Regions from separate parts of the Homo sapiens genome. Here region 2 is linked to region 1. The links come from fine-mapping of genetic effects on gene expression. A gene starts in region 1. The other region holds a variant in brackets. All regions are shown on one strand. Distances are from middle to middle.

Evidence for each region.
Region 2: its variant is fine-mapped to the expression of SCAMP2 in blood mononuclear cells (TOPMed, PIP above 0.99).

The regions. Positions count from the first base shown.
Region 1 is chr15:74,871,935-74,874,732 of GRCh38, forward strand. SCAMP2 (secretory carrier membrane protein 2) reads right to left here and starts at 1,431. Exons shown (of 9, transcript NM_005697.5): 1 at 1,265-1,431. The coding sequence starts at 1,321.
Region 2 is chr15:74,842,935-74,845,732 of GRCh38, forward strand. SCAMP2 (secretory carrier membrane protein 2) reads right to left here. Exons shown (of 9, transcript NM_005697.5): 8 at 2,539-2,659; 9 at 796-2,283. The coding sequence ends at 2,149. It overlaps ULK3 (unc-51 like kinase 3), which reads right to left and starts at 222. Exons shown (of 16, transcript NM_001099436.4): 1 at 70-222. The coding sequence starts at 171. RefSeq lists an enhancer at 1-721 and a silencer at 1-703. The variant T/C (reference allele first, on the strand shown) is at 1,419.

The DNA.
Region 1 (2,798 bases):
CTCGGGAGGCTGAAGCACGAGAATCACTTGAACCCAGGAGGCTGAGGCTGCAGTGAGCCGAGATCGCGCTACTGCACTCCAGCCTGGGCGACAGAGCAAGAATTGTCTCAAAAAACAAAACAAAACAAAACAAAAAAAAAGGAAAAGAAAGAAAGCAGGAAGATTGTTTCTTCCTTGATTGCTGTTCAAAAGGTCAGGCCAGGCGTGGTGGCTCACACCTGTAATCCCAGCACTTTGGAAGGCCGAGGCGGATGGATCACCTGAGGTCAGGAGTTTGAGACCAGCCTGGCCAACACGGTGAAACCCCGTCTCTACTAAAAGTATGAAAATTAGCTGGGTGTGGTGGCATACGCCTGTAGTCCCAGCTACTCAGGAGGCTGAAGCAGGAGAATTGCTTGAACTCGGGAGGCAGAGGTTGCAGTGAGCGGAAATCGTGCCAATGCACTCCAGCCTGGGCGACAAAGCGAGACTCCGTCTCAAAAAAAAAAAAAAAAGTCAGGCCAGCTCACACGTCAGTGCATCTCAACTATGTTGCCACCACACACAGTTCCATCAGACAAACGTTCCCTGTGGGTCCAGAATTTTTCACAGTCCCCCGCACCTCTCCTCTCTCCCTAACCCGGGCTCTCCTATCTGGTCAAAACCCACTCCAAACTAGACCCATGGCCAAAATGTGGAATTCTTATCAAGGCCATTTTTCAACTTGGGCTACCTTCCCGCCCTCTCCCATCTTTCTTTCCCTGACAAATCTCAGGGGCTCTCCTGTACTTTATACACTAGTTTGGCTGGTGGTGGAGCGGTGGCAGGTGTCCTGGGCTTTTCCCACATTTTTCCCCTCCACCAGAGGCTTCACCACCTCCTCATATGTTGCTGTCACCCCCTCTTCTAAAGTGACTCAAGACAGGTGTCTATCCAAGAATGAGGGAATGCGATAGCCACATTTCGCTTCTCCCTGACGCTAGGAGACTTCCGGAAGGGTCCGACCGTACCTGCTCCAGTCCCCTTCCCTAGCACAGCCCAGCCTCCGGGTGCTAGAAGACCCCACTGTCTCCAACACTTCAGCGCCCCGCCTCCTCTGCAGTTCCACCTGCTGCTAGTCGCGCCCCTCACGCGTTACGATAGGCCAGACCTCAAAGCCCGCTCTCCCATTGGGCAGATGACCCGTCCCTCCTACGCCACGTCTCCCGGCTCTAGCGAGAGGCCCGGGCGGCGGCCGTGGGCCCTAGGGAAATCTGAGAGCTGGATGGCGGGAGAGGGGCTCTACCTGGAAGGGGTTTACATCCACTGGGTCCGCGAAGGGGTTGGTGTCGAAAGCCGACATGGTGATCGGGGGCCAGCGGGCGAACTCCGCGAACGCTGCTGCCTCCGGGCACCCAGACCCAGCGGCGCTTCGTGTAGACCCTCCACTTCCGGGAGCGAGGCAGCGGTTCTGGCGCAGGCGCGATGCCCTCCCCCGAGGGCGTGGCCCTATGACGGCACCGGGGTCGCTCCGCCCCCCCCCCCCCCCCCCCCGCCCAGCCCACAATAGTGCGGTGGGTGGGCATTCGGCTTCCGTCCACATCTTCGCTCTGCTGGGGATTCAGGGGTCTTGGCTGCGCGGAGCGTCTACGGAGCCAGAGGCGTGGCCGGAGTCCTTCCCAACTGCCTATCAATCTGACACCTTCCAATTTTATGTTTCTAAAGCAAACTCTCAAAAGTGGGACAGGAAACAGCCCCTTCACTTCTCTGTAGACCAAGTTTGGGAAGAAGTCCAAACTGATCCCTGGGCAAAGGACAGGGGTGACAGGTGAGGCCAGAGGCCTTGGGAGAACTAGGAAAGCGCTTCTTCTGCAGAACGTGCTCGGGGAAAGAGAAGTGCCAGGACCATCCAGCAGTCCTCCACCCGAGCTGAGCCTGCTTCTTCTAGGGCTGCTCGCCCTCTGATGTCGTTTCATCGTTTTAGGGACGAGGGTTCCTGGGCCCATCAGCTTTGGGACCTGAGTTGGGACTTGAACCTGGACATCAAACATTTATGAAGTGACTCACGGAATTCAGCAACACAGCCTCAATCATGGGGGAGGTGGCTGCTTCACTCTCCACAGCTCCGCTTTCCCCCGCCCCCGCCCCCCACAGGGTCTCACTGTCGCCCAGGCTGGAGTGCAGTGGTGCAATCATGGCTCACTGCAGCCTCGAGCTCCTGGGCTCAAGCAATCCTCCCACCTCAGCCTCCTGAGTAGCTGGGACTACAGCTGGTCACCACCATACCCAGCTAATTTATGGATTTTTTGTAGAGATGGGGATCTCACTATATTGCCCAGGCTCGTCTCAAACACCTGGGCTGAAGTGATCCTCCCGCCTTGGCTTCCTAAAATGCTAGGATTATACTCATGAACCACTGTCTGGCCAAATCCACCTTATTTATTTGGATCTGTCTGGTATTATTCATCTCTGCTGTCACCGAATCCCAGCCACTGTCATTTTTACCCTGAACTAATACAGTGCTGTTAATTGGTCTATTGTTCTTCATGTTGTAATCAAAGATATGTTTAAAGGGGGCAAAATTATCACAGAACTTTGTTAAAATTTTTCAATTAATTTCCATAAAGGGCTGGGTGCGTGGCTTATGCCTGTAATCCCAGTACTTTGGGAGGCAGAGGTAGGAGGATCACTTGAAGCCAGGAGTTCGAGACCAGCCTAGGCAACATACCAGGACCCTGGCTCTACAAAAAAAAAAAAAAAAAAAAAAAAATATATATATATATATATATATATATATATATACATATACATATCTCACACACACACGTAATTAGCTAGGC
Region 2 (2,798 bases), 29 kb before region 1:
TCAGAGTCTCCCCGGCCGGCACCAGCCGAGCTAGCTCGGGCGGGCACGGGGCCATCGGCCGGCACCCACCTTGGCGTAGGCCTTGTACACCGTGGCGTACGTGCCGCTGCCCAGGCGCTCGGTGAGGATGAAGCCGTCCAGGCGCGGGGGACCCCAGCCGGGCCCCGCCATTCCGGCCGCCTGCGCCCGCGCGGGCGCTTCCTCGCTGCGGGCGGCGGTTCCGGCGGGTTGCGGGGCGGGCCGAGCACTGGGTGGCTCCACGCTGCCCCCAGCGCCGCCCGCCGGAAATGCAGCGCGCATCGGGGACGCGGATCCGCCCGGCTCCCGGCGCCCCTCCCCTGTCTCTGGGCCTCGCCGGGTCACGCGCCCCGCCAGTTCCTGCAGGGCCCACGTGGGGATACGGAGGCCCCGCGAGCCTAGAAGTTAACAACGGAGGACGGCCGGCGTGGTCTCCGGGGACTCCTAGCGGGCGCAGAGGCGTCTAGAGATCGCCCACGTGAGGGCGCGGGCGGCGGAGCGGGCGTGTGTGGGGGCGACGGCGTCCGGGAGGCTCCCAGGGCCCCTCCCCAGGACCCGCAGCTCTGAAAGGAGAGCTACTGGCACGAGAAGGCGCCTTTGGAAGAGGCCGCGTTGGCTTCCCAGGCCTCCCAGCTGCTTTTCACTTTTCTGAGGAAGGGCCTTGACCTATTTATTGCATCTTAACTGTCCCCGCTCTCCAATCTTAGCAGCGGCGCCCAGCCCCTAATCCTGTGGGCTGCCCCGTCCTCCCAAGTCCACCAGACATGTGGACCCGTGTTGTCTGAAAATGTTTTTATTTTTACTTAAGCACAAAAATTGAGACGTAACATATACATTTGTACATAGAGGGGAAAAAATACCAGAAAGGAGTTCATAAAACCCCAGCCGCTGCCAGTATCATTCAGTGGCTGGGGCCTGCGGCTGTCTCGGGCCCAGAGCCGGAGGCTAGTTTTGTGGGAAGGCACCCCAGTCCACACACCCACTCGGCAGCCTCGAGGGACAGGGTGCTGGTTTTAAGGGTGGACTCCTACGTGTCCCATCACAGTGACACACCCCCCAGGGTGTGAACCAGACTCCACTGGGTATTAGGGGGCCCTCCGAGAGATGGCTTATCAGTCCCTGCTGAGGGATGCGGTTCTGGACTGGCTGGCCCTGCCCTTCCTGAAAGTCTGGATGCTGCTGATGGGGAGCATGGGCGGGGCAGGTGGCATCTGAGGCAGAGACAAAGGCAGCCGTCCCTCGGTTCGGGGAGGGGGGGGGGTAGTCACAGCAAACAGGGCCAAACCAACCACACCAGGACAGGCAGACCCCACCCTCCTAGAAGACGCTGGACGCTAGGCAGGACAGCTTGGGGTCAGTGTCCTTGGTCCCTTCCAGTCCCCAAATCCCAACCAACGGCA[T/C]TGTACATTCAGAAAGTCTGAAGAGAGTAAGGCTCAGCAAGGGGAGGGCTCCAGAGGGCTCAAAGTGCCATCCCCTGCAGGAGGGTGCAGGGGGATAAAGGGCTATTAATCCGTTTCTCAGGAACACGAGGCAGGGAAGAGCTTAAGGCAACCAGCCTTCTCTGGATCCGTTTATGAGGCAGAGAAGAGCTTGAGGCAACCAGCCTTCTCTGGAAGCCTGGAGACCACTGGAGTGACCTGGGGAACAGATCTGTCCACCAGAACCTGTGAGAGGCTTATTCCCAGCCCAGGCAGGAAGGACTGGGCTGTGTCTAAGAAGCCAGATTCAGGCCAGGCCTGCAGGGTGGGGGAGTCAAGGCCCAGGACCCTGGCAGAAAGCTCCAGCTGGGATGGGCCCAGGTCAGCCTGTGATCCCAACTGTGTGGGGGTGTCTGTGTGTGCACAGGACGAAGAGAACTTCAGTCCCACTGCTTCCAGAGACAAAAGAATCCTACCAAACCATCACCAGAGAAGGAAAGAGAGCTTTGTTTTTTTTTGTACATAGAGGGGGAAAAAATTCCCTGTCCCTCCCGTTCCAGGGAGAGCTGGTCGCTGAGGGAGGAGGAAGAGCCACGGCAAGAACCCTGCCAGGTCTGTGCTGGGCACAACCACCACCACATAAGGCACCCACGGAAAGTGCAGCTCAGAAGGCAGGCGAGAGAAAGGCTGAGGGGGAGAGAAGAGAGGAGGACTAATTCCCCTGGAAGGCTCCTTGGGCAGCAGATGAAGCAGCTCTGTGGAAGGTTCTGCTGCTGAAGATGCCCTGGGAAAACTCCTCCTGGGCCTGCTGGAAGCTGGCCCCTGTCCGTCGGTAGAGGGAGTGCACCTGGCGAAGAGGGGTGGGGTGAGAGAAGCCTGTCCTTTGGGCCCACCAGGAAGCCAGCCATCCAGGTTATACTCCCAAAGGGGTCACCAGAAGCCTGGCACTGCCTGACCCCCCACCCAGATCCCTGGAGAAAGGTACTGGACCTTTGGGGGCCTAGGATGCCCAACTGCAGTGGTGAAAAACATCTCGTGGCAAGGGCAGGAAACGGTTGCCTGCCTCCTCCCATTTGCTGTCAGCCCTGCCCACACCACTCACCCGCTGCAGGAGGAAGACTGAGAGCACGGCACAGAGGGTGAAGAAGCCAGCCACCACCATCATGATGACTGATATGGCCAGGGAATGATTATCCAGTGTAGACAGGGCTGCAATCCAACCGCTATAAAGGGAAGAAGAGGCCAGAGGGAGCAAAGTGGGAGTGGGCTCCAAAAGTCAGCATAAGGGGCTCTTCTCCAAGTGGCTGCTGTGTCCTGACCATCACCTTGGCATCTCCCCACAGCACAGGGAGCCCTGTGAGC